2 separate regions of the Homo sapiens genome follow, and region 2 is linked to region 1. The links come from fine-mapping of genetic effects on gene expression. A gene starts in region 1. The other region holds a variant in brackets. All regions are shown on one strand. Distances are from middle to middle.

Region 1 (12,152 bases):
CCTCCGCAGCCCAGCTCTCGGCAGGCCACAGCGGCGTCTCGCAGGTCCCAGGCGTCGTCACACACCGACCCCCAGCGACCCCCGTGCCAGACCTCCAGGCGGCCGGCGCACCCGTGGGGGCCATCGGCCAGGCGCAGCCGAGGTGCTGGGCCTGGATAGTGGGAGAGGGAGCACAGGGCCAGGAAACGAGGGTGGATGAGCGGGGACTAAGCTATGCTCAGGCAGGCTGCAACCCCAAGATGACTCTGGGAAGCAAATATTCCATCTTCACTATCCAAATGAGGAAAAGGTTCCAAGACAGGAAGTCACTGGCCCGGAGTCCAACTCTGGCGCATCCCCCATATCCCTTGCCTTGGGGCGGTGGGGGCTGGGGACGCTGGGAGCTCTGGCTCTGGTCCCCTGGATCCACCTCCCATGCCTGGCCCCTCGGATCCTAGAGAGCCGGATTTCCAAGTCTCAGCACCACTGGCATTGGGCATCCTCCTTTATCGTGGCAACTGTCCTGCACTGCATCCTCTACCCACCACATGCCAGTGGCAACCCCTCCCCCTAGCTGCGACAACCAAAAACGTCTCCAGACATTGCCTGATGTCCTTTGGGGAGGAAGGGGATGAGAAAGCCCTCACTCCCTTGCCAGCTGAGAGCCACTAGTCTAGATATTAACCTCTCGCTGGCCTTAGGATACATAGGGTACATTTCATTTTTTTATTTTTGGGGGGAGGGGATCTCACTATGTCACCCAGGCTGGAGTGCAATGGTGCAATCTTGGCTCACTGCAGTCTCGACCTCCTGGACCCAAGGAATCCTCCCCGCCTCAGCCTCTCCCAAGTAGCTGGGACTACAGGCATGCGCCACCATGCCCTGCTATTTTTTTTTTATTTTATATTTTGTAGGGAAAGGGTCTCACTATGTTGCCCAGACTGGTCTTGAACTCCTGGCCTCAAGAAATCCTCCCAAAGCACGTGGGCTACAGGTGTTAGCCTGTAACCATGCCTGGCTCTTCGGGTACATTTCTGTTGGGGTAAGAGTTGACTCATCATTGGAGGACTCTGGAGTCCCTCTCTCTGTCCCCCAACGAGGCAGGTGCAGAATTGCCCCCAATCACTGTTCTAGAGAAGAGCACAGAACTAGGGAGGAGTCTAACACACCTGTCTGCTTTTCCTCATCTGCAGACAGGGGAGGGGAGCGTCTCCCTCCCGGGGTTGCCATGAGAATTAAATCAGATGCTGGCGAAGCTCCCAGCTTCACCGGGCGCCTTAGTTCATTTGTTTCCTTTCTTGGCACCTTCACCCTCTCCTCTCCAGAGCCTCAACTTCCCTCCAATGAACTCTGCTCCGAAGGTCCCACTTCTTCCCCCACAGCTTGTACACTAGGCACACGAAGGCACCACCCCCACCCCATACAAGCCTTCTCTGCTGCTCACTCCCACTCTGACCTCCGTGTCCCCACCACGTCCCTATGGCCGACTGTGCAGTGGGACAGGCATGGAGCGTGGGTCTATACAGACCCAGAGGGGTCAGCGGCTGGGGCTGGAGCTTGCTAGGCACCTGGGTCTTGGGCCATTTACGTCACCTCTCTGAGCCTCGGCCCCACATCTGTGAAGAGAGGGATGAGGATCCACCCCGTCCGGGCTGCGGGAGGCTCAGAGCGGCCCCAGGTAACGTGCACAGCGCAGGGCCCAGCATACAGCAGAGACTAGGGTCAGCCTCTTTCTCTCTTCTCTCCCCCCTGGATACCCACTGATGTCAGCATTTCCTACCCATCCTGGGCAGGCACCCAGCTTTGCCTGCAGCCCGTGTACTGTCCCCACCCCAACGCTGATGAAATGCCAGGTGGGTGCCCTCTGCCTGCCGGCCTCCTACAGTCAATGGATCGGGCAGTCCAGCAGGGTGGGGCCTGCCGTGGTGGTGTGTAAAGATTTGTGGAAGGAAAGAAAGGAAAGAGAAAGGGAAAGAGGGAGGAAGGAAGGAAGGAGAGAAGGAGGGAGGGAGCCCCTGAGCTCTCACCTAACACCCCCCAACCGCTGTTTGCTGGGTTCTATCCCAGGTCCAAGGGGTACAGGAGAGGGGAGGGACCCCCTGGGAGACATGAGGGGAGGAGACCCCGCGCTGAGGGGGCGTGAATGAGGGGAGATGGAGGCTCACCCGTGGGTGTCCCCACCCTGCCTCAGTCTCCCTCCATGCCCCCAAGTCACCGCCCTCCCTCCCTCCTTCCCACCAGCTCCCTTGAGGATGGGGAAGGAGCAGAGGTTGGCCACAGAGACAAGAGGTCTCCGAGACGGTCCCCTGCCATGGCCAGCCCGGTGGCAGAGGGCAGGCAGGGCTTCTTGCGTTCCAGGACTTGGCTCAAGCCTGAGGCAGGCATTCTTAGCTCCATCGCTCCTTCAGGAAAACTGAGGCTTAAACAAACGGTCACTGGCCTAGGCCCCGGGACAGGGCTGAGCACTAGCCCAAGCCTCAAGCCTGCTCCTCCCATTCCTGGCAAGGAGAACGGCAGGAGCTGTGGAAGGAGGGGCTGGAGAGCGTGGTGAGTGGGCGCTGGGCATGCAGAGAGCAGGCGGGCAGGAGGCAGAGCTGGGAGCAGGCCCGCTGCAGCTTCCTGGAGGGGCAAGAGGGAGCTGGGGTCTGAGGAAGACAGGAGGGGGCCAGGCCCCAGCCCGACGTACCGGTGCAGACCAGCCCCGCATCCTCGCTGTGGTCACAGTTGCTCCGGCCCCAGGGGCTTCGGGGGCAGTCTCGGAGGGCCTGTTCTCCTCCTCCACACCCCACATCGTCCATCCACACGGGCCCTGCACCAGGCCCGAATCTGGCACCGCCGGGGGCAGCCAGCGCCCCCCCACAGCCCAGTTCCCGGCAGGCTACAGCAGCGTCGCGCAGGTCCCAGCCATCGTCACATACGGTGCCCCAGCGCCCGCCGTGCCAGACCTCCAGGCGTCCGGCGCACCTGTGGGGGCCAGAGACCAGGCGCAGCCGCTCTGTGGGGTGAGCAGGGAGGGGACGGTGTGGCCAGTGAGAAATGATTCAAACACCCCTTCCTCGATTTCCACCTGGGGAAACAGGCCTGAGGGAGCGGTGGCCTGAGATCTGTCCGCCGGCAGCCCGTGAAGAGGTGAGTCCACGACCTGAGCGGGCCAGGACACCTGGGCCTCCTGACAGGGCAGGAAGAAGAGGGGAGACCAGGCCTGGCCGTCTAAATCCCCGGGGGAGGGACGCGGGGAACACTGGGATCCCTCCAGGGCCCCGGCTAAGGAGAGGGCGCCCGCAGGTCCTCAGTTTTTCTGGGCCCTGGGCCTCACAGCAACCAGCCTTGGGGTCGGGGGAGCCTGCAGGGAGCTTACCTTGGCGGGGGGCTCCTGTCGTCAGCAGAGGGGCCCGGGTGGACTTGGCCTGCTTGGGCCGGGGGCTCTTCTTCCGGGAGGCGTTCTGGGGGTTCCCAGCTGGGCGGGGGGCTGGGAGTGGAGACAGCCAGGGGTCAGGAGCTGAGCCCCTCATCCTTCCTCCCACCTGGGGGCCCAGGCCTCCGTCTCTGAGGGTCTGAAGTGATGGAGGACTCCCTAGGCTATGAAGGAGACGGGGCGGGGCAGGGGGCGGGCTGTGTGTCCCCTGGGAGTTCATACTGCAGAGGTCCCTCTCCCCTCGGTGGGGGCAGGAGGGCACGCTGGGTGGGGGTTGGCAGGGCAGTCCCTCTCCCCTCGGGGGGGGCAGGAGGGCACGCTGGGTGGGGGTTGGCAGGGCAGTCCCCTGGGCTCACCATGTGTCACCAGGGGCTCCTCCGTGCTGGGGCTCAGCTCCAGCAACAGCCCTGGCCAGGGAGCCCCATCCAGGGGAGATGTTGAGTCGTCCCTGGAGTTAGCCACACGCTGACCTGCGGCGGGGGGGCAGGGACAGAAGCTATGAGGAGAGGAGGGGAATCCAGGCCATTTGGGTCCCTGGAAGAGGGAGTTAGCCACCTGGCTTTGGAGGGGATGGGAGGTTGGGTGTCTCTGAACTGCTGAACACTCAGACTTGCTGGGGCTAAGGACTTGGGGTTCCTGGGTCATCTCCAAAGGAGCTCCCCCTGAAGGAGCAGCCAGGGTGTCCTCACCTGCGCAGACGACGCCCGCGTCCTCCTCGTGGGAGCAGATGTGGGCCTTCCAGCCCCGGTGGTGGCAGAGGCCCAGCTGCCCCTCGTTGCCCCGGCAAGCCAGCTCGCTGAGCCACACAGGCCCTGCCCCCTCCCCGAAGAAGGCGCCTCCCGGGGCGGCCAGTGCCCCTCCGCAGCCCAGCTGCCGGCAGGCCACGGCGGCATCGCGCAGGTCCCAGCCGTCATCACACACGGTGCCCCAGCGCCCGCCATGCCAGACCTCCAGGCGGCCAGCGCACCCATGGGGGCCATCGGCCAGGCGCAGGCGCTCTGAGGGTTGGAGGAATGGCTGTGACTGGGGAGGGGCATCCTGGGGGCCCCAAGGCCAGGGCAACTGTAGGGGCAGGTGGCTGTCCTGCAGGTACTGTCTGTAGGCCAGTGGCCCTGCTCACTGGCCCCTGGGCCCAGACTCCTGGGTGCTCAGAGAGATGCGGCCAGACACCTGGGGGATTCCCTTGCGGAGCTGGGGCCAAGGTCACAGTGGAATTCGGATGGGCCGGGGACCCAGTGGGGGTGAGGCCAGGCCTGGATGGGCAGAAGGGGGAGGCCTGGGGGGGGGGGCGGGCAGATGGGAGGAGTCTGGGCACTTACCAACAGCCTGGATCCCCACCAGGGCCGCTGGAAGGGAGGGCGGAGGGTGGGGCAGTGTGAGGGGCAGGCCGGGGGTGGCCCTTTCTCCAGCGCAGGCCCCTCATCTTGAATACCCCAACACACACACACACACACACACACACACACACACACACACACATGGGCTTGGCTAAAGGTCAGATGTCTGGGAGATCCCCCGCAGGGTCAGGGCTGGGGGGCGGGCAGGGGGCAGGTCCCTTGGGCTTCTGGGCTGGCAGAAGGCTGGGCAGATTGAGCAGGGATCCTCAGAAGGGATGTCAGGGTATGCAGGAGCACCAGCGACCAGTCCCGGAAGTTTGAGTCCCTAAACTGGACAAGCTAAGGGGTCAGAGGTGGGGGCCTAGGCCCCCCGAGTCCCCAAGGAGAATGGATCACTCACCAAGGAGGCAGGCCAAGACCCTCATGGTTGCAGCCAGGGCAGGGGATGGGGTGAAAGGGGAAGGAGAGCGGGGAGAGAAGAGGAGGAGGCAGCTGGGGAGAGAGGGAGGGAGGGAAGTGCCTGCTGGAGGCGCCCAGGCCCGAGGAGGAGCAGGCAGGGCTGGACGCTTTGCCAGGAGGAAGAAAGAGGCTGCAGGGAGGCGGCAGGGGACGGTGGGGGGGAGGGGGGGCGGGAGGGGGCTGGCCGTCTGCTGAGGCATGGGGGGGAGGGGGGTGGCGGGCGGGAGGGAGGGTGTCCAACTGCAGACACCCACACGGGAGATGGAGACGACGGCCAGGCAGGCTCCAGCCAGCAAAGTGCTGTGCCCAGAGATGCTTAGGGGGTGGCCGGCTGCAGGAAGGCACAGGACAGGGGTTGGGGGACGTGTGCGGGGGGGGCGCAGCATGAGCGGGAGGGGCGCCCACCTGCTGTCTCCCCTCTTGTCTGGTCAGGGAAATCCAGTGAGACCACTGCTAGGGTTGGGGGCTGGGCAGACCTGGGGTTCTTGGTGCAGCAGCAAGAAGATTTGCAGCCAGACACCAGGAGGGACTTCCTGGGTTAGGAAAAGAGACTGAAAGACCCGGCCCTCCAGTCCTCCCACTCACTGGTGGATCTGAGTGTGAAGCCCCCAGTCCCCAGCTGAGAGAGGAGAGGTTGAACTTCACTGTCCCAGAGGGAGCTGGGGTCGGGGGATAAGCAGCACAAGGGTCAAGGCTTGGGAAGGGGAGGGGCTCCACACACTCTTCCACACACTCACACACACACACACACACCCCACTGCCTGCACACCAGGCAGCTGTGAGGCGGAAAAAATTCGGTAATGGGGAGCGTGACTCAGAAGGGCTGGCAGGGCCTCGGGCTGCCCCTGAGCTCACAGCCTCCCCTTCTCCCAGTCCAGCACCGTCCCCCAACAATTAATGTTAACTGGGGAAAGGAGAAGCCAGACAGAAATGGGCGGGGGTGTCCGGAGACAGACTGGGAAAGCCATCAGAGAAGAGACAGGCACACAGCGGTTTCAGGCTTTATTAACAAACGGTGTAAAAAACCAGACGGATCTGGAGGAAGGGACAGGGCTGCCCGTCTCAGCTCTCAACCTTCCCAGAGAGGGGCCAGGCCTGGCAGCCCTGTGCGTCGCGCCTCCTAAGCAGTCAACCTTGTCCCCTCCAAGGACAGGCATCTGACCCAATCCAGGTCCCAGGGAGGCGGAGTCGCAAACCCTAACTCTGGGGTGTATTCTGCTCGGCCTCCTCTCCCCCTCCCCAGATAGCTCTCCCAGCCTGGGGCACGGACAGCACAGACTTTGCAGACATCACCCGGGGAGGTTTCTCAGTGCAGACAGGAGCTGAGGTAGGGGTTGGAGAGGCTGACCTCGAGAGGCCCCCGAGGGCCAGGAAGGAAAAGGAGTCATTCCACTCTGAGAAGCTCAAACACAACAGACTTCACACTGCTGACGGGTGGACAGAGGCCAGGCTCCTCCCCTCGGCAGGCCTCTGTTTCTGGGCCCAGGGTGGTTGAGGACTCACTGAGGGAGAGCAGGTAAAAGAACCCGCAGACAGTAGGCGATCATCAGGTGCTGGCGCCCCTCCCTCCTCCCCTGCCCTGGCTGTCAGTCTGTAGCTTCACAGGTCTTTGCTGAATTCCCTCACCAGCGTGTAGCCCAGGCAGCCCCAGCCCCCCTCGGCCTGGTAGCCACAGCCCTCCAGCATCCCTCCCACCCCCCAGGCGGCCACAGCCACGGGGACCACGAGCCGGGCCCGGGGCTCCCCCATGCCCCCAGCCCAGGCCCGAGCCCGGGCCTCCGCGAAGGCCAGCAGCCTCCTGCCCACGCCCCGGCGGCGGTGCCAGCGAGAGACAGACAGGCGGGTGACCCGGGCCCCGTCCCCTGCATTTGTGCCAGGGGCCAGAGCCAGGACCCCACACACGTCACCGGAGCCCCGCACGGCCACCCAGGGGCCCCCCAGGCCACCCGGCGGAGGCAGCGAGCCCCATCGGGCCCGCAGGCCCAGCTTCACGGCGGCCACAGCCAGGAACACCGGCAGGAGGAGGGCCAGGGCGAAGGAAGCCAGGACAAAGCGCAGGCCGCTGCTGGCCGCCGCCAGGAGGAGCAGGGCCGGCGGCCGTGTCAAGGCATGGAGGGCCACGCGGTTTTCCGTGTCCTTCACGCCGGCCTGTGGGCAGGAGGGGTGGCTCAGCCATCCGAAACGCTAGGGCCTCCTGGACAAAGAGAGGAGGTAGACCCTGCCCGGGGCGGGGTGAGAGCTCCCAAATGGGAAGGGAAGGCAGCACAGTCCGATGTTCAGTGTGGCACACTGGGTATGGAGTGAATGAATGAACGAGAGCGAATGATGGATGGATGAGTGAATTAGGAGCTGTGGGGGCACTCAATTCAGTAGCAATGCCGCAGTGAGGCCCCAGGGAAGTAAGGACAGGGAGGTTGCCTCAGGCTGGAGTGGAGGCTGGAGGGAGGCTGCTGGGCTAGGTTGGGGTGCTGGGCTGTGCTTTGAAGAGTTGGGGTCCGAGGCACAGAGCTGGCTGTTGTGCTGGCGTGCACAGCCGACTGGAGATGGGAGACCAGGGAGGGCGTTGGTGCTGGGGTCCCAGTAGGGCTGGGGGGGTGAGCCCCCACCTGCCACACCTGCTGTGGTTTTCAGCAGCAGGGCGGCTGAGGCTCAGGAGGAAAAGATCCCGCTCCAGGGGTCCAGGCTGGCTCAGGTGGGTGGGAGGGGGTGGCTGAATCCACTTGCAATTCCCCCACTGCAGCCACTCCCAGGCCCCCTGGGGCCCCTGCCTCTCACCTTCAGCATCTCCAGCACCAGGGGCTTCTCATCTTCCCTCATCTCCCGCACTGACAGGTGGCTGGGGGCCATGGCAACCCCCAGGCCCCGGCCCCCCAGAAGGGAGCTGGCGTCGTGCACCTGGTGAGAACATAAGTAGGTCAGCGTCAGGGGGGCACCTCTGTCCCCAAAGCTCCCCCGAGGGGTAGGGAGCAGCAACGGCACTTCCCAGATCAGGACACTGAGAACCCTCGGGGCCCCCAAGCGAGGATCTCGGCAGGACAGGCGCCCCCCACAATACTCAGCGACCTTGCTAAAGTCTCCCGGGATCCCCCCTCCCCCGTATTATTCAGCGATCTACACTCCCAAACGCGCTGCGGACGCCAACACTGCAGCACGGGGCTCCCTCCCAGGCACTGGGGTCCACGAACACCCTCCCCACATGCCAGAGAACGGACCACGCTCGCTCCACCCCGGTCCCCAGCGCCCCCTCCCCCACAGTCGTCCCCGTCCCGCGCCACAAGAACAAGGACCAGCAAGCACCTGCACCGGTCGCCTTTGGTCCTTCGACAAGGTTTCGGGAGCGGGTCTGGAAGGGGGTCGCGGGCGGAAGTGACGTCAGACCGCGCGCGGTGGGGCGGGGCGGCGCCCGCTCCGGGCCGTAGCAACCGTTGCTAAGCTCCCCGGAGGGCGGGCTGGGAGGAACCGAGCTGTGACCCTGCGGAGGGCCGGGAAGCGACCTCTCCTATCCCTAGAGAAGGAGCAACGGGGAAAGGGGACCTGGGGAAGAACGGGAGCGGAAGCCGGCAGGAGACGGGCGGCGGGCTGGGGACCAGCGCGAGCTCCCGCCCCACGTTCCCTCGTTGCTGAGCAACCTGAGCGCCGGGCGGCGACGCCAGCGCGTGGATTCTCATCCGTGCCGGGGCCTTCGCGGGAGGAGCCGGCCACGCTCAGCATCCTGGCGCCCGACTCCCCCATCCCCAGGGACCCCACTCCACCCACGGGGCGCCCGGGGTCGCAGAACCCTTCCGCATAAGGATCCCCCTACTTCTCACACGAGGGGGGCAGCGGGGCGACCTACAGTGAACAAGTAGCACTCCCTGGAGTCTGATGTCACCACCTCCCCACTATAATGACCCCTGCGGCCTTTTTTGGTTTCAGGACAGGGGAACTGAGCCCTACGTAGTGGCTGGCCCCAGGATGCAGAACAAGCCATCTGCGACCCAGGACGCAAGACTTAAGACTCCACGCTCCCAGGCGGGGGCTAGGACCATGACTTTGCCCCCTTCCCTCCCCCCAGGAAAACAAAACACAGGCGGGGAGACTCGGGTCTTTATTAGCAAGCCCAGCCTGCGGCACCCTGCCCCGCCCCGGCTGGCAGTGAGTCGGGGTCTCTGTGCGGGGCGGGAGGGGAATCACTGCCTCTCCTCAAAACGTGTGCACCAGCTGGACTGCGGGTAGAGTCTGGACAATCTGGATGGAGGGCAGGCCCTGAGGGGTCATAACACCAGGCCCAGCTCCTGCGGGGACCACTTGCACCATCTGGGAGGCTGGAGCCCCGGGGAGCCCCGCGGGGCCCGAGGCTGGGCCTGACGGCGGTGGGGCCAGGAGCTGCAGCGTGGCGGTGCCTCCTCCAGTGTTGCTGCTGTCCAGCAGCTCAGTGGCTGGGGCGCTGCGGATGATGAGGAGTTTCTGTCCGGGTGGGCCGGTGGCAGGCGGCTCCGTCAGCCCAGGAGGAAGTGTTTCTACCTCCTGTACGCAGAGTCGAGTCTGTTCGCCATCGGCCCCGCTCAGCACCAGCACGCTCTGCAAGCCCTCGTCCGTCTGGAGTGTCTCAAAGAGGACATCCTGGACCACACCAGTGCTGGCCTCGCCATCCCCCGCCTCCCCGGGGCCCGGGCCAGTGAGCAACTCCTCAGCTGCCCCGCTCTGAACAACCAGCAGGTTGGGTGCCTCAGTAGCCACAGCTCCCCCACTGGAATTGGAGAGCTGGCCGGCCACGGGCTGGAGCTGGACCGTGGTCACCTCCTGTGCTGGCTGGAGCTGGACCGTGGTTACTTCCTGTGCTGGCTGGAGCTGGACTGTGGTCACCTCCTGCGCTGGCTGGAGCTGGACCGTGGTTACTTCTGGGGCTGGTCGGAGGGGCTGGAGCTGCACCCCACTCATTTCCTGTGGCCCTGCCTCCCCACCCCCCACATTCTGCAGAACGATGAGGCTCTGCCCTGTCCCGCTGGCCCCAGCGCTGGCCGCTCCCTGCACCCCTAGACCCCCAGGGCCTGGCAGCCAGACCACTCCCGCCCCCTGGCCCGCTTTCCCCACTGCCCGCGGGCCCTGCCTTGCACGGCCGCCCCCAGCCCCAGCACTGGAGGAGGGCAGCAGGATGAGCTTGGGAGGTGCGGGAGGGGGCGGAGGTGTAGGGGGCTGCACGCTGCTGGGGATCAGCTGGAGGCCCTGGGCAGTTTGCACCAGGAGGAACGTCTGAGAGTTGGGCGCTGCTGGCCCCAAGCTCGGGGCCTGGGCCGTGCCCCCCGCCACCTCGAGGGAGAGCGTGGCCTGGAGGTGGGGCAGGACGTGGACATCTTGGGTGGCTGGCGGGGCCCGCGCAGCAGCCAGTGGAGCAGGGGGCTGGGGGCCGGCGGCAGGGGCTGTGGTGCTGGGAGGCGTGTTGGCCGGGGCGTGCGTCCTCAGGTGCCGCTGCAGATAGGCGGCCATAACGAAGCCGCGACCGCAGATGGGGCAGGTGAAGGGGCGCTCCGCCGAGTGCGTGCGCTGGTGCAGCAGCAGGTTGGAGGAGTGGGTGAAGGTCTTGGGGCAGAGCGGGCAGCGGAAGGGCCGCTCGCCCGTGTGCACGCGCTGGTGCTGCCGCAGGTTGGAGGTCTGCGCGAAGCTCTTGCCGCAGACACCGCAGGCGTGGGGCCTCTCGCCAGTGTGCACGTGGCGGTGGCGACGCAGGCACGACGTGTTGCGGAAGGCCTTGCCACACTCCCCGCAGGCGTAGGGCCGCTCGCCAGAGTGCAGCCGCAGGTGGTACTGGTAGTGGGACGACCACTTGAAGGTGAGGCCGCACTGGCCACAGGTGAAGGCCCGCAGGCCCGTGTGCACCCGCTGGTGGATGGCCAGCAGGGAGGAGCGCTTGAAGGCCTTGCCGCACTCGCCACACTGGTAGGGCCGCTCGCCCGTGTGGTCCCGCAGGTGGTAGCGCAGCCCGGAGGAGCCCTTGAAGGACTTGCCGCACTCGGCACATTTGTAGGGCCGCTCCGCAGAAGCGGGGGCGGACGGGGGTGGCGGCGGGACGGGGGCGGCAGGCGCCAGCGGTTCCTGGGGGCAGGTCACCTCCGCAGCCTCAGCCTGCGGGGGCGGGCGCCCGGCCGCGGCCTCTTCCACGTGGCACTGCTGATGCGCCAGGAGGCTGGCCAGCTGCGGGAAGGAGCCGTCGCAGCTGCCGCAGCGGAACGCTTGCCCGCCGGCAGCCCCGTGGCTGTGCTGGTGGCGGGAGAGCCCAGCCACCGTCCGGAAGGACTTGCCGCAGGGCAGACAGGCAAAGCCAGGCGCGGGGGCGGCGGCGGGAGGAGGGGGCTGCGGCAGAGGGGACGGTGGCTGGTCGGCCTTGGGCGCCTCGGCGGGTGCCTCCTGGGGCTGGGGCGCCGCATCGGGCCCGGGGCACGGCTGGTGCTCCAGGAGCAGCTCCTCGCTGCTGAATCCCTGCTCGCAGCCATCGCAGCGGTACACCAGCTCCACCGTGGTCTCCGCCGCCGCCAAAAAGAGCTCAGGCACCACGGGCGGGGGCGGGGGCGGCGGGGCGGGAGGCGCGGGCGGGCTGTGGGGCTGGAGGTGCCGCTGCAGGTAGGCGTCGCACACGAAGACCTTGCCGGGCTCCCGGGACTGGGGGGGCGGGGCCGCGGAGGCGGTACCCGGGGCGGGGGCGGCGCCGTGCGTGCGCTGGTGCAGCAGCAGGTTGGAGGAGTGGGTGAAGGTCTTGGGGCAGAGCGGGCAGCGGAAGGGCCGCTCGCCCGTGTGCACGCGCTGGTGCTGCCGCAGGTTGGTGCTCTGCGTGAAGCTCTTCCCGCAGACTCCACAGGTGTAGGGCCGCTCGCCGGTGTGCACGTGGCGGTGGCGCCGCAGGCTGGACGAGTTCTTGAAGGCCTTGGGGCAGTCCGGGCACGGGTAGGGGCGCTCGCCTGTGTGCTGCCTTAAGTGGTACTGGTAGT
Region 2 (12,152 bases), 730 kb after region 1:
AAGGAGACGGGGTTAGCTAGTTCCCCCTCTATTAGTTCCTGGAGAGCTGGTTGTTCAAAAGAACTTGGAAGCTCCATCGCTCCCCCTCCCCCTTGCTCCCTCTCTTGCCGTGTGATCTCTGTGGTCTCTGCACAGACAGACCCTCCTTCCCTTCTGCCAGAGTGGGAGCAGCCTGAGGCCATCACGAGAAATAGATGCTGGTGCCATGCTTCCAGTACAGCCTGCAGAACGGTGAGGCAAACCAATCTCTTTTCTTTAGAAGTTGCCCAGGCTCAAGTGTTCCTTTAGAGCAACAAAAATGGACTAAGACAGCAACGTCCTGAGATCAGGAGGAACGTCCCAGAGCAGCCTGGGCTGTCTTCCTGTTCTTCCTGGAGGAGGACGTCATGCAGTGCTTTAGCTGAGTGCTTCCTGTGGCTCCAGGGTACAAAACCCAGGCTGGGCTGCTTTCTGGCTTCCCCCAGCTACACTGCAAATGGGGTGACTCCATATGTCCCGAGCAGCTTTTCTGAGCCTTGAGGGACTGGCTCACATTGAAATGTAGGCTTCTGTTTTCACTCGCTGCTTATCTGTTAGTAATGAACCTGCCTATGTAACGTATTCTCTGTGTGTTCTGTCTCCCTGGAGTGACGGTGAGTGATAGGAATTGGCGTAGGCCCAGGTGCAGTCTAGGAGGTGTTTAGGGTCTTTTCTGGGAAGACTGCACTGGGATTGACACACAGCGAATGTGCTTTAGGATTTCTACATCCACAGCATTCTTGAGTCAAACAACTTGCGTTCTCCAAGGAAAGGAAACAAAAGTGAAATCAAGATAAAAAAGCGAAATAGAGTTATCTTATGTCCAACAGCCAGGAAATCGTGTTGAAGCCCCTGTGAAACGTCCTACTCTTTGTGATCTCGGGAGACACATGTTAGGCTGCTGTTCTACCTGAGAGGCTGGGGGAAGGACCACCCCCTCCACCATCTATTGCTTCAATACCACCTGTCCTCCTGTGAATTAGTAGGAAAGGGGAGCAGGAGCTAGTGCTGGTGCTGATCTCTCATTCCAAGATCTGGACTCACTCCAAGGAGTATTAATGTTTACCTCCCCATGGTCTATCTGAATCTCCACAGGTGATTGGAAGTAGGGGTGAAGTGGGGGATTTGAGTGAGAGGGCAAGTTTTTTTTGTGATGAACAGAGCACTTTCTCTATTCCACGATCTGTGCTGGAGGATTCAGCAGGCTTTCACATTTTCTATATGGTCTCATGCTCACAGAAAGCCAAATACGGAAGAGGTTTTAGGCTCATTGCCTAATGGATAAGACAAAGGATCAAAGAAGTAATTATAGAGAAATACAAAAATGATGATTGGAATTCAGGTGCCTTTGTCATTCGTGTGTGTTTTATTATATTTATGCATTTCTTATTTTTATTTTTTGAGACGGAGTCTCCTTGTGTCACCCAGGCTGGAGTGCAGTGATGCAATCTCCACTCACTGCAACCTCCACCTCCTGGGTTGAAGTCGTTCTCCTGCTTCATCCTCAAGAGTAGGAGCTGGGATTACAGGGATGCACCACCATGCTCGGCTAATTTTTGTATTTTTCATAGAGACAGGGTTTCACCATTTTGGCCAGGCTGGTCTGGAACTCCTGACTTCAAGTGATCCACCCGCCTTGGCCTCCTGCAGTGCTGGGAATTGCCTTTTCCACGGCCTGAGCATGGGGCCGTGGCTGAATGAGTCAGTGAGTCGAAGTGTGCGTGCATGAGCTCCGTTCTCTGTTAAGGCAAAGCTCTTGCTCTGCTGAGTCAGCCAGGGTTGCTTCATGACCAACAGTAATTCATTCCTGGGCAAGTGGAACTTCTCTAAAACACCTCGCCCTCATCAAATGTTCCCTACCCTTCCCTCTCTCAAGCCCCCAGGAATTTATCCTCCAGTTAGGAATGCAGGCAGAACAAACATTGCATTTTTCCTGAGAAGGATGTCAGATTGCCAATCATTTTTCTAGCTTGTAGGAGATCTCAGCTCCATAAAATGAGAGATTAAGAGATTTCACAGAGCCCTGTTTTGGGTCCAGATCCCTTTCGCTGTTGGAGTATCTGGAGTTTGGAGATGGTAGAAGACAGGCGTACAATGTCAGAGCTGTGAGATGCTGAGTCAACGCCTGAATCCAAGGTTTCCACCTCCCCAGGTTTCCAAAAGCGGATATAAGAGGGTTCTGTACTCACCGGTTTTGGAGCTTGGTTCAGTGGGTGAAGGCCAACTATTTGAAGGGTTTCCTAGAACATGAGACAGGAGAGAGGTGAGGAAATGAGGGTGTCTGTCCTCTACTCAGTGGAAATCTTTGAGGTTGGTTCATGGCCAACACTCTGTTATCTAATATTGGGCCCTGGGAGTCCTGGGATCCTTTTTTCCGTAATTTTTGTATGTGACGGCTACTGTCTTGAGACTTCAAGGTATAAAGAGAAAACAGGAGCATCACACTACCTGATCTCAAAATATGTTACAGAGCTGTAGTAAGCAAGACAGCATGACGTTGGCATGAAGAAAGGCACATAGAACAACGGAGCAGAATGAATAACACAGATATAATCCATGCATTTACCTCCAATGTATTTTTTGTTTTTCTTTTGAGATGGAGTCTTGCTCTGTCACCCAGGCTGGAGTGCAGAGGTGCAATCTCGGTTCACTGCCACCACAGCCTCCTGGGTTCAATCACTTCTCTTGCCTCAAACTCCTGAGTAGTGGTATTACAGGTGCTGACCACCATGCTCAGCTAATTTTTATATTTTTAGTGGAGACGATGTTTCATCACGTTGGCCAGACTAATCTTGAACTCTTGGCCTCAGGTGATCCACCCACCTCGGGCTCCCAAAGTGCTGAAATTGCAGGTGTCAGCCACCATGCCCAGCCCATCCAATGGACTTTGACAAAGGTGCCAAGAACTCACAATCAGGAAAGGACAGTCTTTTCAATAAACAGTGCAGGGAAACCTGGACATCGACATGCAGAGGAATGAAACTGCACCTCTGCCTGTCACTATACACAAAAATCAAATGAAAATGGATTAAAGATGTGAGTCTAAGGCCTGAACCTATGAAACACGTAGAAGAAAATATTGGGGAAATGCTCCAGGACGTTTGTCTGAAGGAAGACATTTTGTTTTAAACCTTCAAAACACAAGTAATCGAAGCAAAAATAGACCATTGGGATTACCTCAAACTAAGCAACTTCTGCACCGCTAAAAATAAACCAACAAAGTGAAGAGACAACCCACAGATTGGGAGCAAATATGTGCAAACTATGCATCTGAGATGGGATTAATAACTAGAAATATAAGAAGCTCAAACAACTCAATAAAACAAATGATTTAATTGAAACAGGAGCAAAAGACATGAAATTTCCCCACATACGAAAAAGTGCTCAGTATCACTCATCATCAGAGAAACACAAATTAAAATCAAAGTGAGTTTTCATCTCACCCCATTAAAATGGCTTTTAGGCCGGGCGTGGTGGCTCACGTCTGTCATCCTAGAACTTTGAGAGCCTGAGGTGGGTGAATCTCATAAGGTCGGGAGTTTGAGACCAGTCTGACCCACATGGAGAAACACTGTCTCTACTAAAAATACAAAAATTAGTCGGGCGTGGTGGCGTGTGCCTGTAATTCCAGCTACTCGGGAGGCTGAGGCAGGAGAATCGCTTGAACCTGGGAGGTGGAGGTTGTGGTGAGCCGAGATCGCACCACTGCACTCAGCCTGGGTGACAAGAGCGAAACTCCATCTCAAAATAAAATGAAATAAAATAAAATGGCTTTTAGCTGCAAGACAGGCAAAAGAAATGCTGGCAAGGTGTTAGAGAAAGGAGAATCCTGGTATCCTGTTGGTAGGAGTGTAAATTAGTACAGCCATTACGGAGAAAAGTGTGGAAGTCCTTTAAAGAACTAAAAAGAGGTTGGGTGAGGTGGATCATGCCTGTAATCCCGGCACTTTGGGAGACCGAGGCGGGCACCTCAGTTGAGGTCATGAGTTTGAGAGCAGCCCAGCCAACATGGGGAAACCGCATCTATACTAAAAAAAACAAAAAGTAGCCAGGCATGGTGGCGTGCGCCTATAATCCCTGATACTAGGGAGGCTGAGGCAGGAAAATCATTTGAACCCAGGAGGCAGAGGTTGCAATGAGCCAAGATGACATCACTTGTACTCCAGCCTGGGCACAGAGGGAAACTGTCTCAAAAACAAAAACAAAACAACAAACGAAAAACTAAAAAGAGAACTTTCATAGTATCCAGCAATTTCACTACTGGGTTTATATCCAAAGGAAAGTAAATCAATATATCGAAGTGATATCTGCACTCGTATGATTGGTGCAGCACTCTTCACAGTAGCCAAGATGAGGAGTCAACCTACCTGCCCATCAGTGGGTGAATGGATAGAGAGAATGTGGTACATTTGCATAGTGGAGACTACTCTTCCATAGAAAGAAAAACATCCTGATATTTGCAGCCACATGGATGGAACTGGAGGTCATTACAAAGATTCCCATTTCTTACCCATATACAGGAGCTAAAAGGTGGATCTCATGAAGGTAGAGAGTAGAATGGTGGCTACCAGAGGCCAGGAAGAAAAGGGTGGAGGGTAAAAAAAAATATGTGTATATATATATATATTAATGTATTTATGACCACTAGACTTTACACTTAAAAATGGTAAATGTGGCTGGGCGTGGTGGCTCATGCCTGTAATCCCAGCACTTTGGGAGGCTGATGCGGGTGGATCACGTGGTCAGGAGTTCGAGACCAGCTTGACCAACATGGTGAAACCCCCTCTCTACTAAAAATACAAAAAGTAGCCTGGCATGGTGGTGCGCGCCTGTAGCACCAGCTACTCAGGTGGCTGAGGCAAGAGAATCGCTTGAACCCAGGAGGCGGAAGTTGCAGTGAGCTGAGATTGTGCCAATGCACTCCAGCATAGGGGACAGAGCTAGACTCCGCCTCAAAAAAAAAATGTTAAAGGTGGTAAGCTATATAGGTATATTTATCCTCAATAAATATTTCTCAAACAAAAGTAAAGGGTGTAGGGGTTGCAGGTGATGACATCCCTGTGTGGGTGGGAGGCCAGGATGGGCTTCTGGGAAATGGGTAATGTTGAGGGGCTGAGGGAACCTCTGATCTTCCCAAACTGAGCCCAGTCTCCCTCCTCTGGGTCTCTCCTGACCGCTTTCTCCATCTGCCTGGGTGCCTGGAGTCCTGGCCGCAGGCCTTCATGCAGGCCATGTAGGAGGGTTTGGAGGTGCCCTGTCTGCCATCCTGTGCCCTGATCCCTCCCTCACACCCAAGCTTCGTCTTCTCTCTGCATCTGTTCATCCTTCTCTCCATCCTCAGCAGGAAGCTCCTCAGCTAAGGCTCTAGGATCATAGGACATGGGACAGCCATGGGCTTTCCTCACCTGTGACAGAAACAAGCAGTGGGTCACTCGAGTTTGACCACTC[G/A]TAGGGAGAGTCACGGAAAGAGCCGAAGCATCTGTAGGTTCCTCCGTGGGTGGCAGGGCCCAGAGGAAAGTCAGCCTGGAATGTTCCGTTGACCTTGGGCCCTGCAGAGAACCTACGTTCATGGGCCTCCCCCTCCCTGGATAGATGGTACATGTCATAGGAGCTCCGGGAGCTGCAGGACAAGGTCACGCTCTCTCCTGCCAGAACCGTGGGGCCCGGCTGGGCTGAGAGAGAAGGTTTCTCATATAGACCTGGAAGGAGAAGAGGCATTTTCCTTACGGAGGATCTTCCTTGTCACAGCTCCCTTCACCTGAGCTGAGAACTCACTCCCCTGCTCTATGACCTAATGCTCTCTCTCTCTCTCTCTCTCACCCTCCACCCCATCTCTCTTCATGTCTATTTCCTCCTTCCACCTTCTCTGTCTCTCTAGGTCTCTGACCTCGCTTCCACACCTCTAGATATGTTTTCCCTTTTTGGATTGTTTTATTCTCTCTGACTCTCCTTGGATTGGTTGACTTGATGTTACTTTTTTAAATTCTAAGTTTCTCACTTTGTGTCCTGTTCATAACTTTCTGCATATTTCTATCTATTATCTATCGATCTATCTATTTATCTATTCGGTGCCTATCTACAAATTCTCTACCTGTCATCTATATCTATATATCATCTATGTATCTATCACTTGTCTATCTATCCATCAATCATCTGTTATCTATATCTATGTATCATCTCTCTCTCTATGACTTCTGTCTGCCTCTCTATCTCTATGTATTATCTATCTGTCTTCATCATCATCATCTCTATGTCTCATCTATTAATGAATCAATCAATCATCATCTATGTATCTTTAACCTATTATCTATCATCTACCTATTTATCATCTATCTATATCTATCCATCTATCATCTGTCTTGCTCTGCCTCTCGGTCTCTCTAGTTCTCTTTGGAATCTCTGCAATTCATCCCCACATCTCCATCTTTCTATGTCCTTGTGCCTCTCCCTCAGGAGTCTAATTTTAGTGCTTTTCTCTGCTCCCTTCCATCATTCTCACCACTCCTCTGCCCTCTTTTCTCTCTCTTTATGTGTCTGTGAGTCTCTCAATCTCCTTCCTCTGGCTCATTCTCTGTGTGTTTATGTCTTTGCTTTTTGGTGTCCCTGATTTCTCTCTGTGCCTCTCAGTGATCCTTTCATATGTGGGGTTATTTGGAATGTGAGCCTCAGAATCCAGTCTGGAGACCACAAGTTCACACAGCATACAGGAGTTGGTGTTCTGGGGCCATGATATCCTGGGACGGTTACTCTCCATTACATGGAAGGCAGAGGTGTCAGAATAAACACGGCATCTGTAGGTGCCACAAGGCCTGAGGCCACAGGGCCCAACTCAGGTCAGAAATATGGGTGTCCTTGGGTTCTCCTGGTAGAGAACACTTTGTGGAGGTAAAACAGAAATGAAACTTCTAACCTGTGCCAGGTCTCTGAGCAAAGTCAGCATGGAGGGACACCTCTCTCTGGGACATGTCTGTCTGTCTGTCTCCTTTAACTCCTTCTGTCTTTTCTAACTCCCGGTATGGCCCCTGTGTCTGTCCTCTGTTATGACACCTGGTCTGTACTTGTGTCTCCTGTTTCTCTGTCTCTGTTGGTACAGACCTCACCAAGTCAGTCTCTCTCCATAAGAATACCAAGCTCATCTTCCTTACAACTACCTGGGGGTTCCAAGTCGTGGATCATTCACTCTGCATCCCAATGACAATGAGAAGAATGTCCGGACACTCTCACCTGTGATGACGATGTCCAGAGGGTCACTGGGAGCTGACAACTGATGGGGGAGTGAGTAACAGAACCGTAGCATCTGTAGGTCCCTGCCAGGTCTTCCATCATGGGACCGATGGAGAAGTTGGCCTTGGAAACCCCATCATGGTGCTCTCCAGTGAGGTGCAAAGTGTCGTTAAACTTCCCTTCTCTGTGCAGAAGGAAGTGCTGAAACCTGACATCTGACCAACATTGCAGGATGACTGTCTCTTCTGATTTCACCAGGGGACCTGGGTGGGCCAGGAGGGAAGGTTTTCTGTGGACTCCTAGGAAGAGAGGTTGTGAGTTTAGAAGGTGTCTCTCTTTATCATCCCATCCATGGCACCTAGAATGAGTGAGGCTTCCCCTTGCTGGTGTCTGTCTCTCTCCTTCCTCTCTGTGTCTTCATGTTCTTTTCTGTGCCCATAACTCCTGGTGCAGGTCCTTCCATCTGTCTCCCTCCCTCTTCTCTGTCCCTCTGTCTCTAGTCGCCTCTGATTCCCTTCCCACTGGGCTTAGCCTCATCTCTTGGGGTGTTGTATCTATTTCACACTAATGTCTTTCCTGCTGTTTATGTGGGGGTGAAAGAGGAACCAGGATAGGCTGCACATCCAGCCTCTTATCAGCCTGGTTCAATCTCTTTTGGATGAATTGGAATCCTTGGCAGTAGGTATGAACTGATGAATAAGGCAGGCACCAGTGTCCACACACCCTGTTCCTGGTCGGGACTGGGAGCCACTCTTGCCATGCCTGTGCCTTCTCCATGGTGCCAGCTTCCATAGGCTGGCTCCTGGTGCTGGTTTGAGGAGTATCAACCCCTCCCTATGTGGATGGAGCCTGGTGGTGGCATCATCATCCCACACTTGCTCATCTCGGTGTAGCCAACCTTCCCCTTGTTTGGTTCCTTTAATTAATTAATTAATTATGGAGACAGAGTCTCACTCCTTCACCCCAGCTGGAGTGAAGTGGTGTGGTCTAGGGTCACTGCAACCTCTGTCTCCTGGGTTCAAGTGATTCTCCTGCCCTCAGCCTCCCAAGTCGCTAGGATTACATGCGCCTGCCACCACACCCGGCTATCCTTGTGTTGTTTCTTACCTTGTCCTTGACCTGGGTTCCAGTGTTGGTTTCCTGTTGCTGCTGTAGAAAATTATCAGAAGCATGGCAGCAGGAGAGAGCACACTGACCCATTTCACTACTGGAGACAGAAATAGGACCCTGTTTTTCCTGGGCTAAAATCAAGGCATCTGCAGGGCTTCGTTCCCTCTGGAGACTCTGGAGAATCATTTCCTTGACTTTTCCAACCTCTACAGGCCACCTGCATTCATGGCTCCTGGCCTTCCTCCACCTTCAAAGCTGGTGGAGTCTCCCATTGCGCTGCTCTAATCCCCACTCCCCTCTTCCTCCTCCTTTCATGTGGACCCTTGTGATTACACTGAGCCCAGCGGGACAGTCCAGGCTGTCTCCCCATCTCAAGGTCAACTCATCAACAACCTGAGCTCCATCTTCCCCTTCAGTTCCTTCCCCTATAACATAAATAGTCACAGACTCCAGGGATTAGAATGTAGTCATCACTGGGGACAATTATTCTTCCCACCACAGCACCCATTTCCCTGTATTCAATCCCCCTTTACCCCAAATATAGTCAGGGCCTGGGTGATGGGACCCTCAAGGACACGCCCACCAGAAGCTCTGGGATTCAGGAGGTGGGAAAGGAGAATCCAAGACAGGAGCCCTCTGACCTGTGGCCATGATCACCAGGGTGTTGCTGGGTGCCGACCACCCACTGGGGTAGTGTGGGTGTGAACCCCGACATCTGTACGTCCCTGTGTGTGCTGGGGTCACAGGGCCCATGAAAAGGCTCTTCCAGAATATTCTGTTGTAGAGCTCAGTGCCAGGCACCCCATCTTCCTTTTACAGACTGAAGTTGTTAAACCCAAGATAAGAATGACACCGAAGAATCACATGTCCTGGAGGCACCACAGAGCTGGGCCAGGCAGACAGCAAGGGCTTGTCCTGACCACCTTGGGGAGAAGGAGGCACCGCCTTAGAGAGGAGGATGTGGAGCCACCCCTCCCTCCCTGTGCTCTGAAGATTCTCCTCGCTTTCCAAGTTTCTATGGCTGCTATCACACCTTGGTGCCCAGGGCTAAAGGAAGGACCCATCCCGCAAACACAAGGTGTCTCCCTACAACAAAAGTGTCAGCTGAGAACTTTGAGCAAGTGCTGAGTAAGAGACTCCTACTAGATTTTAATACTGTAAGATTACTCACATAAAACAACACAGGGTAGACATGGGGTGGAGGGCATGTCTTTGAGAATGGAATATCAGCAGATGCCTGAATGAAAATAAGCAACTGAGCCCCCATCAGAGGATTTGGAATGTCAGGGCCATGGCTGTGGTTTCCCACCTCTTCTGGTGGAGTGACAGCAGCCACACTGCAGCCCCTACCGTCATGGAAACGCTGAAGTGTGAGTAACACCTTTGTCCTCAGAGGATCTGCTGTTCCTACCACTTCCCCACCACGCACCCCAGCTTTGAGCACCCCAGTCTAACCCTGGTCCCCACAGAACTTGACTCTGCCAAGGGAATGAAAGGCCAGGGAGGCGAGGTCGGAACTGTGGGCCGAGCACCCCAGGGTCCCCTCTTCCTAGTTTATGAGAGGCTCCCTGACAGGACTTCCCTCCTGTTTCAGGAAAATCCTCTTATGTGGGGAGATGACACCCTAAGGTTTGGAGAAGGACTCACCCTCATGTGGCCAGGCCCCCTGCAGCAAGAAGAACCCTGGAAAGAAAGATCATGATGGACGATCCATCTGCAGGCAAACCAGCCCTCCCTTGCTGCCCTCACTGGGCTGTGAGTCTTGGTAGGCAGGCCCTTCCTGGACTGAAGTTAAACTCACCCTCAGTGCCTACCTGCACCCAAGAACAGGGCTGTCGGCTGTGCAGAGACCCAGCCTCCAAGCCCAGATCCCCACCACAAGCCCATATCCCCACCACAAGCCCATATCTCCACTCCAGGCCAATATTTCCACCCTAGGCCTGTATCTCCACTCCAGGCCCATATCTCCACTCCAGGCCGATATTTCCATCATAGGCCCATATCGCCAATCCAGGCCCATATCGCCAATCCAGGCCAAGATCTCCACTGTAAGCCCATATCTCCAATCCAGGCCCATATCTCCACTCCAGGCTCAGATCTCCAACCTAGGCCCATATCTCCAATCCAGGCCCATATCTCCACACCAGGCCCATATCTCTACTGAAGGCCAGTAACTCCACCTCCAGGCCCATATCTCCACTCCAGGCCCAGATCTCCACCCCAAGCCCATATCTCCACCCCAGGCCCATATCTCTACTGAAGGCCCGTAACTCCACCTCCAGGCCCATATCTCCACCCCAGGCCCAGATCTCCACCCCAAGCCCATATCTCCACTCTAGGCCCATATCTCCTCTCCAGTCCCATATCTCCACAACCAGGCCCATATCTCCATCCTAGGCCCATATTTCCACTCTAGGCCCAGATATCCACCTCTAGGCCCATATCTCCACTCCTGGCCCAAATCTCCACTCCAGGCCCATATCTCTACTATAGGCCTATAACTCCACCTCCAGGCCCATATCTCCACTCCAGGCTCCTATCTCCCCTCCAGGTTCCTATCGGCACTCCAGGCCCAGATCTCCACTTCTAGGCCCATCACTCCATCTCTAGGCCCATATATCCACTCCAGGCCCAGATCTCCACTCCAGGCCCACAACTCCACCTCCAGGCCTATATCTCCACCTCTGGGCCCAGATCTCCAACCCCACACTCCCTTCCTCTATTCCCTTCCAGGACTCACCAACACACGCCATGCTGACGACCGTGAGCGACATGGTGCTGCCGGTGCAGACAGGCGGCCGTGCCCCAGCTCAGCTCAGCAGCGCACAGGATGTTATTTGGCGCCCTGCCCATGCAGTTTACATGTTGACCACATCATGGGAGGGTGACGTACGCAGGCTCATTCTACCTTGCATGAGGCCCAGTGGGTGCTCGCTCAAGAGCGGAACACGGCTTCCTGGAAATTGTTCTCACTAGAATTTACACCTAGCGTCCTTCACTATGACCAACTCAAAACACGTCTCAGATCCAACCTCCTGAACACGAGATGCCTAAAATCTGTGCTAACGTGAAAGACTTTTCATGTATTTTTATTGTTTTTATCTGAGATTCAAACTCTTCTTCATGTGTAATATGCAAAATATTTAATAGGTATTATTAAGGTTTTCAGAGTCATTGTGACTAATAAACCATTAGAATTTTTCATGCTTGTATTTCTAGTATTACAGCAGAACCAGTTAAAATGATTTAAATTCCCAGGGAAGGATTATGCAATTATTTACAATGTTAGAATTGTACTTTATCAGCAAAAACCACACCTGTAAATTCTGGAGTTTTGTAGTTTAATCTAAAATTTGTCTCATGACCCAAGATTCCAGAGTCCCAACTCTGGAGTTTGATCTCTCTCTGTCTCTCTGCCTCCCTCATTTTAAATTTTACAGAAATATCCAGTAACATAATGCTATAGAAAATCAAGTTTCCCCAGCACGTCGGGAAGCCGAGGTGGGCGGATCAACTGAGATGAGGGGATTGAGAGCAGCCTGGCCAACATAGTGAAACCGTGTCTCTGCTAAAAATCCAAAAATTAGCCATGCCTGGTGGCAGGCACCTGTAACGCCAGCTACTCAAGAGGCTGAGGCACGAGAATCGCTTGAACCTGGGAGGCGGAGGTTGCAGTGAGCTGAGATTGTGTCACTGCAGTCCAGCCTGGGCGACAGAGCAAGACTCCGCCTCAAGAAAAAAAAAAGCAAATAGCCTATAATAACAAATTAGAGGGCTCTGGCTACTAAATTTAAAGGGTT

What was found. PIP is the estimated chance that this variant, and not a neighbour inherited with it, causes the effect.
Region 2: its variant is fine-mapped to the expression of SSC5D in ileum (GTEx, PIP above 0.99).

Annotation. Positions count from the first base shown.
Region 1 is chr19:55,481,594-55,493,745 of GRCh38, reverse strand. It overlaps SSC5D (scavenger receptor cysteine rich family member with 5 domains), which reads right to left and starts at 5,310. Exons shown (of 14, transcript NM_001144950.2): 1 at 5,132-5,310; 2 at 4,714-4,740; 3 at 4,084-4,392; 4 at 3,751-3,864; 5 at 3,338-3,448; 6 at 2,666-2,974; 7 at 1-151. The coding sequence starts at 5,156. ZNF628 (zinc finger protein 628) reads right to left here. Exons shown (of 3, transcript NM_033113.3): 3 at 9,259-12,152. The coding sequence ends at 9,373. NAT14 (N-acetyltransferase 14 (putative)) reads right to left here and starts at 8,558. Exons shown (of 3, transcript NM_020378.4): 1 at 8,488-8,558; 2 at 7,966-8,085; 3 at 6,180-7,338. The coding sequence starts at 8,037. The coding sequence ends at 6,790. RefSeq lists enhancers at 7,919-8,248, 10,779-11,492 and silencers at 8,349-8,768, 11,330-11,624.
Region 2 is chr19:54,753,997-54,766,148 of GRCh38, reverse strand. It overlaps the pseudogene KIR2DP1. Among named protein-coding and RNA genes, the nearest start is that of KIR2DL1, 9.7 kb to the left of the region's middle. RefSeq lists an enhancer at 1,145-2,344. The variant G/A (reference allele first, on the strand shown) is at 5,467.